Homo sapiens: one gene and its partner. The protein of the gene in region 2 interacts with the protein of the main gene of each other region in a pairwise test. Each region holds a gene or a part of one and is shown on either strand. Other genes may lie near its edges.

Evidence for each region.
Region 1: the proteins of MGAT1 (region 2) and BRI3 interact in binary tests that used the Homo sapiens proteins (3 or more experiments, as listed by UniProt).

The regions. Positions count from the first base shown.
Region 1 is NC_000007.14:98,284,622-98,288,524, forward strand, and holds part of BRI3 (membrane protein BRI3), read left to right. Parts: intron 1-3,903. UniProt on the Homo sapiens protein: Participates in tumor necrosis factor-alpha (TNF)-induced cell death. May be a target of Wnt/beta-catenin signaling in the liver.
Region 2 is NC_000005.10:180,795,987-180,799,889, reverse strand, and holds part of MGAT1 (alpha-1,3-mannosyl-glycoprotein 2-beta-N-acetylglucosaminyltransferase), read left to right. Parts: intron 1-3,903. UniProt on the Homo sapiens protein: Initiates complex N-linked carbohydrate formation. Essential for the conversion of high-mannose to hybrid and complex N-glycans.

The DNA of each region.
Region 1 (3,903 bases), on a different chromosome or scaffold from region 2:
CTCCCTGCCTGGTGGCATGGCAGGAATTTGCCCAAGTCACACATCTGTTAGTCCTTCTGAGTGAGGCTTGGCCAGAGAAGCCCGTGTCCCTTGTGGCTCTGCTGCCCTGGCCAGGCCTTCGCTGAAGCTGCCTGACTCCATCTTCCCTTTCTAGCCGTTTATGAGGAAGCATTTCCGCAGCCTGGCGGCGGATATGTCCCTGCTCCTCCCACCCTCCTGCTTCACCCCTGCCCTGCCCTGCCCTGCCCTGCCTTGCCCTGCCCAAGGCCTGGGCCTCCCTGAAGCCAGGTTCTCCCTTGCCCAGGGAGGCCAGTCATTCTTTGCTGGGGGTGTGGTTGTACCTAGGTGCAGGATGAGGTAGCTGCGCTGGGAGGCTCTCCTGGGCTGGAGCAGAGCCTGCGTCCTGCAAGCGGGGAAGGCAGGAGTGGGGAAGGCCCCTGGCCTGCACCAGGCCCCCATGAGTACTGGCTGGGCTGTCACTGGGTATTTAGTTTTGGGGGTGACCAGAGAGAGAGGAAATCCTGGAAAGGATTTCACTTTTCCTAGGGAAGGTGAAAAGAACAGCTGTGGAGGGCGGATGTCGCTCAGAGGTCCAGGGTGCGGCTCAGTGGCCAGCGTGGAGGCTGCCACGGCCCTTGGGGGGCAGAGGTGGGCTGTGGAGGGCACGGGGTGGTGACTGTGGAGCCCGGGAGGGGCTGGAGGGGAAGGAGCCTGTGACAGCCTTGGGCTTCCAGACGATGGAGGTGGAGGGGCTGCTCCCTCCTACCACCTGTGACCTGGAAGCCAGAGCTCCCCTGGTTGAGGAAGTGGCTGAGTTAGCTGGGATGGCTCTGCCCATATGTATGGCCTGTGGGCTGTCCCCGTCCTGACAGTCTTGGCCTGAGGTGTGGGGGCAGCGGATGGGCCGGAGCTTGGGCCTGGGCTGCTTGCTGGGCAGGGCTGCAGACCTCGGTGCCCAAGTGCTCCCTCAGTGGCCTCCTGAGTCTCTGACCTTGGGCTCAGCCCCCAGCTGTGGGCCAAGTGGCACTGCTGGGGTGGGTGTGGTGGCAGGCAGAGTCTCCGGGCACCTTCTCAGGCCTTTCTTCCACAGGGGAGGCGAGGGCTGGCCCTGGCCATTGGGTTTGCTGGGAATGGCCCTGGGAGGTCCTGGTGAACTGTCCCTAAGCCAGGCAGCTCCCCTGTGGGGAGTGGACACCCTGGGACAGCCAGAGCCTGGCTGGAGCTGCTTTGGGGCCACCTCGCCCTGCGCTGAGCATGGCTTCAGGCCCTCAGCCCTCTGAGGAAGCCCTGCGTCTCCCCTTTTCCTGGCGAGGCCTGGCCTTCCAGCGGGGTGGTGGTCTGGGGTTGTTCCTGGGCGTGGATGGTGCCTTGAGGCCACCATGTGCGCAGAGGGCAGCTTGGTGCCCTAGGGCCAGCCCCCTGTGACACTGCCTTTGGGGGCTACCTGGGAGGGAGAACTGGGACCTGCAGGATGGGTGCTCGTGACTGGGGAGCCCATCTGGGTTCAGATCCCAGCCACGCCTTTCCCGGCTGGGAGTCCCTGGACACACCCTCAGCTTCAGCCTCCTGTAAAGTGCCTGTGGGGACACAGGGAGGGCGAGGATGGCCTTCTCCCTGGGCAGCTCAGAGCCCTGCTGCCAGCCCCCTCTGTCCTTGGTGAGGCGGGAGCCCCGCGGCCTCTACTGTCCCAGGGCCCAGCTCTGAGTGGATGACAGTGGCATGACTGGCCACTTTCACTGCAGGACTGGAGTCGCCTTAAGGGAGTGCTCTTGGAATTAGTCAGTTCCCTAATTTCGCCAGTGGCCATGGTCCCTCCCTGGCCGCGTGGCTTATTGCACAAGAATGGGGGAGGGGCGGCTAGAGAGAGCCGGTCAGGACCAGAGCGGTTGAGAAGGTTGAAACCCACCTCACCAACTCAGGTGGGCTCTTCCGGGTTTGGAAGGGAGGAGAACTCGAGGCTGTGGGGACCGCAGGTGTTCCGGGGCAGGGGTTCCCCTTCTGCCCTCCAGTGCTGGGGACAGGACTGCCCTGCAGCTTGGGGAGTCTTGACCTAGAATCTGGATTGTGTTTCTCAGTTCAGAAGATTTGGGGTTTTAAAAAGTAAATGATGCCAACACTCCTTTTGAGGTCTAGGGCAGTACTGCAGTTAAAACTTTAATATTTCTGCAGCAAGACATGAATATTCAGATAAAGTAGGATAAATTACGACTATAAATAGCCACACACCAGTTCAGGTCACATGTTGCTGCCAGGTGAGTTTGCTGTCAAGTGACAGCGAGTTCTGCCTTCAGCGCCTCTTGGCGTTTGAAGTTGTGGGTACGGCTGTGGAATCCTGGGGGGTAGGGAATGCTGCCCACCCTTAGGCTGACCCCAGAGCCAGAGGTGAGGGCCGAACTCTCCTGGCCAGCCCTCGGGCCTTCGAAGCCCGTTCAGAGCTCTCAGGCCCAAGTGCTCGTTCTCCCGGGCCGGGGTTCTCAGGTCTGGATCACAGCCTTCTGTTGCTGGCAGAGGCCTGAGCCTCCTGGGACAGCTGGATCTGTCCAGCTCCCGGGCGGCACTGCAGGGAAACAGGCTCGCTCTCCCCAGAGACCCGGGGGCCTTGGCCCTCCTACCCTCTCTTTAAGCGGTGTGGAGGTGGGCAGGAGGGTGGGGGTTGAATGGACCAGGGATAGGGAGGCTGCCTTAGGAGGTGCCGGAGTGGGTCCCTGGACTGAGGGGCTCAGGCCAGGGTGGCACAAACGGCCCAGCCCTGTGCTCTGGCTGAGGATGGGATGGGTCTGGACAGAAATTCCGTGGGTTGGAAGGAGGGTGTTTCCCTGTGCCTGGGAGGCCGTGGGGTCAGCACATTAGGTTTGGCCCATTGTGCTGCTTGCAGCCCCGGGGCTGGGAATCAAGGTGCTGGGAAGAGAGGCGCCGGGGCCTGGGTGGGCTGGGCTGGCGCTGCTGGAAATCCTAGCACTCAGGTGGGCCGGCGCCCTGGCCCGTGGCAGTGGGAGTGCAGCAAGAGTGAGCAGCCTTCCTGCACTTCTCAGCTCTGACAGAGTAGGTGGGTTTTGGGTCTGGATGGAGAATTAGGAAGCAGGAGGGCGCTGCTGCTCTTGGACTTGGGTCCCAGGCGCGAGCAGCAGCTGCAGGTGGGAGGCTGGTGTGGGCGGGGCCCCCAGGCAGCACTGTGAAGCCCCACCCCTGCCCATTGCACCATCACACCTGGATGTCTCTGCTGCGCCCCATGGGCGGGCTCCAGCCGGGCTCCCCACCCACACCCCTTTGCCCAGCCTCCTCCCAGGCATCTCTGGGCCTTTGAACAGGCAGTCAGCTCTGCCTGCAGCCCTGCCTCTCAGCAGCTTTGGTCCTGAGGTGAGGTGCTCAGATGGTCACTGATTGGGCTGGCTGAGGGGTGCCCGGTGACACTGGGGACCACTCTGGGGGGTGCGGGCCTCTCCCCTAGAAGGATTTCTCAGCCGGTTCACCCTCCCTGTCTGCTTTTTCATGGGACATTTTCTAACCAGAATATACAGCCAGTGTGTTTCCTGGGATTTGACCGCAGATGCCAGGAAGAAAAGGGAAGAGGAAGCTCCCCTGAGAGGCCTGAGGCCACTGGCTCCCTCCAGCTCCCCCGGAACCTGTCATGGCCATCTGTGGGGACACAGCTGGTGCTTGGCCTTCCCGAGGCTCCCCCACCTCGACTGTGTGGTCTTGGGAGCTGTGGCACCTGGGGGAGAAGGTCCTGGAGCCAGGCAGGGCGTGCTGCAGTCGGCAGGGCTGGGCGGAGGTGTCCTGCCCAGTCTGGACTGGCAGGGGCAGCCCTGGGCAAGGCTGAACAAGTGTGGTGGCCTGACGACCTTCTGGGGCTTAAATAGGGGACACATTTGTAAAAGCCCACACAGGAAGTAGAAACTTTCC
Region 2 (3,903 bases):
TATAGCAGGGTCCTAGGAGTCAGCATCTTAAGAGGACCAGGTGGAAACTACTGCCTTTTATGAGTTAGTCTCACAAGTCACATAGCATCTCTTCCCAGAACCAAAGGGAGGGAACATAGACCCTCAGCTCTGGAGGCAGGAGTGTCTTTATCACTTGTAAGAAGAGCATATGGAATGGGATATGTGCGGTCATCTCTGGAAAATGTCACACTTCACTCTCTTGCTGCTGCGTTGGCCATCTTTCTCCCTGATTTCGGTAATAGTGCAAGCAGTCTTCCATCCAGCCACTTGAACCTCATACATGTGCCAAGCACTGTGGTGGGCACAGAGGTCATAGAGTCTTTTTTCCTAAGGAGGAAGGTGGGAGTCAGGTCAGCGTGGCCACAGATTCTGTTACAGCGTGGAGAGAGTGCTGTGGGAGTGTAGTCATAGGGAGGCCTGGCTCTGTCTGTGATGTTACAGAAGGAGTCACCTGAAGTGGCCTGAAAGGATGTGTGGGTGGCTGGCAGGTGGCGCTGTGGGTCAAATTCCAGGATGAGGGACCAGCTGGAGCAGAGACACAGCAGCGTCCAGGTATATGCTTACTGGGGAAAAAGCAGCCTGCTGAGGCCAGAGTGCAGGGTCCATGGGGTTAGTGGTTGGAGGTAAGGTTGAAAAGGGATGTTTCAGACAGTCTGTCTGAAGGGCTTTGGATGTCATCATAATGAGTTTGAGTTTGAGTTTGTGGGCAGTGCAGCCTCTGATGGTTTTTAAAGCAAGTTAATGTCGTGACCAGGTGTACTTGTCAGGAAGGATGCGCTGTTGCTGTTGGGAAGGTTTGTGAGAGGGAAGCAAGATTAGTGACAGGTGGACCAGCTGGGAAACTACATCAAGAGTCCAGACTTAAAACAGTGTTTCCTACGAAGGAATGAGTTCAGGTTAAAGGGCTGGAGGGCTTGACATGGGATGCTAGCAGTCAATGAGTAACTTTGTACTTCCATTTTCATAGTTTTGAAGTTCTTGGTCCTAGATGTATTTCAGAATTGAGAATTTTTTGGATTTTGAAAAGATGATCTGGTGAATTTACTCTGTAGTGGAAGATCAGAAGCAGCATGGCATAAGCCACCATGTTTATTTCTGTAGCAAAATGTATGAATAGCCACAGCAGGAGAGAGAAAAGACTATAAATAGCCCCATATTAGATCAGATCAGATTTTACCAAATGAGGCTGGATGAGGTTTTACTGCCAATTGAGTTTAGAAAACTTCTGTGTTTTAGTGCTTCTTGGATTTGGCAGTTACAGTTGAGGAACTGTGGATGTTTTTAGATCCCAGGCACATCTGCTGAATGTTGAGAGCCCTAGCACAGCGGCTTGGCAGTGCTGGTGGAGCCAATCCCTGTCTTCATGTAGCTTGCAGCTGAGGGGGCCTGAGAGAAGTTGAGCAAGTGGTTGCGCTTGTTGCTGTTGGTGAAGGGTAGGTGGACCTTACATGGTCCCAGGCGTCAAGGAAGGCATCTTGGCAGAGACACGAATCAGAGTGTGCCAGGTGAAGAAGATAGGGAAGAGCAGAGCTGGCACATGGGCACATGCAAAGACCCCGACGGTAGGCTTGGCTGTTGGGGTACCAGACGGGAGTGTGGTAGAGTGGAGCAAAGAAAATGGGGAGAAAGGAGTGAAATAACGGCCGATATTTACGTTGTCATGCCGGCACTGTTCTAAACACCTAACATGGCTCATCTCATCCGATCTTCACAGCAACCCAGTTTGAGTCTCAGAAATGTGGCAAAACGTAGGGTGATGCCTCTGGGCTGTCTGGCTTGCCTTTGTTGCTGCTGCACTCTCCTGATGGTGGCCTGAGCAGTGCTTCCTGGAGAAGCAGGTCACCGCTGCTGGCCAAGGTCTGGGCTTGATCATCCTTTTGGGCACAGCCAGTTGTGAGAGGGTGTATGGCTCCTGGTTCATGTGTGTGCACACAGCACTAACTTCCAGGCAGAGCTGAGGATCCTATCCCAGGAACTACGTGGATAAACAGTAGGAAAATAGCACTGGGGCCCAGGCTGAGCCTAAGGAGGTGGGCTGGAACTAGGGGTGTCATGTCCTCTTATGGCAACAGGAGCAAGTTTGAAGCACAGGGCTGTGGGGTGGAGAACAAGGGCCCAGGGATTGATTAAGGTGGAGGCCAGGGCTTGGCCGGGGCAGCTTTTCCTGTGGGCTCTGCAGCCACTCCATGTGTGTGCAGACTTGCCAAGTAAAAACTCAGTCAGAAGACTGGTTTGCTCTGCATGGCTTAGAAGGGTGGGGCAGGAGGTCCTAAGCATCAGGTAGTGGGTGTGGGCCACCAAATTCTGATGTCTGGAGAAGAGTAAAAAGGCATCTAAAGGGTGCAGAAGTTATCTCAAGGGTCCCAGGAGGCTTTGCCATAAGGGCCTGCAGGTCATTGATGAGTCAGGGACGGGCTATCCCTCTGGGCCCCCCCCCCCTTTTTTTTTTTTTTTTTTTTTTTGGTGGGGGATGGAGTCTTGCTTCATCATCCGGGCTGGAAGGCAGTGGTGCCATCTCAGCTCACTGCAACCTCCGCCTCCCAGGTTCAAGGGATTCTCCTGTCTCAGCCTTCTGAGTAGCTGGGATTACAGGCACGCACCACCACACCCGGCTAATTTTTGAATTTTTATTTTAGTAGAGATGGGGTTTCGCCATGTTGGCCAGGCTCCTGACCTCAGGTGATCCGCCTGCCTTGGCATCCCAAAGCGCTGGGATTACAGGCTTGAGCCACCAAGCCCAGTGGGGCCCCACCCTTCTAAGCCATGCAGAGCAGCACTTCACTGAATAGAGTTCAGTCCCTCTTCTCCATCCCCATCCTGTTATATAAAGTCTTTTTCTTGCACAGTCATTTAGGAGGTGGGAAGTTGGGAGACAGGGAATCCTGGCCATTAGATTGGAGGGAAAGTTCCAACATGGACAACATCCTGAGGGGAGAGCGAAGAAGAAACTGAAACTCTTCTGGGCCCAGTGGCTCACACCTGTAATCCCAGCACTTTGGGAGGCTGAGGAGGGTGGATCACTTGAGGTCAGGAGTTCAACACCAGCCTGGCCAACATGGTGAAAGCCCGTCTCTATTAAAAATACAAAAATTAGCTGGGCGTGGTGGCAGGCACCTGTAATCCCAGATACTCGGGAGGCTGAGGCAAGAGAGTCGCTTGAGCCTGGGAGGCAGAGGTTGCAGTGAGCTGAGATCATGCCACTGTACTCCAGCCTGGGCAACAGACAGAGTGAGACTCTGTCTCAAAAAAAAAGAAAAAAAACTGAAACTCTTTTGTGCATCACTCTTTTCTTCCACATAAACTTTCTTAAAAATCAAATATGGGGATATGGCCCACAGCTCTGAGTAGCTTCATCCATCTGTATGGCCCCAGCTGGGCACAGCAGTAAGGCCAACTGAAACGACGTTTGCCCTGAATTTCTCGGTCACTTGACAACATGTATCTAATTGATACATAATATTTGAGCCCTGATATAATAGAATTTAATTGCACAGTTACATGGAAACAGACTTGACGTTTCTGAGAAGACTGATGTCCTGGCGTGGTGGGGGTGGTTGGTTTCTAGGAAGAAGACAAGTGGTTGGTGGTGAATGCTGGCAGGGGCTGGTGAAGTCTCCCCAGGAGGGAGACAGAATCCATGTCTCTTTAGAGGCCCTTCAGGATCAGCCCTTTTATACCAGATCTGCTGGTTTGAGAGCCCAGAGCCTCAGAGGTTAGATCTGAGGCCCAAGGTTTTGGCCAGGATTAGAGAGTAGCCTGTGAGGCAGAGGGCAACTGGCAGAGCTGTTGGTGTAAGAGGGTGCACGCCTGAAGCTTTGGGGTGTAAAGGGTAGACCAGAGGCAGGACAGTCAAGGAGTTATGGTCTGGAGTGGCAGCTGGCT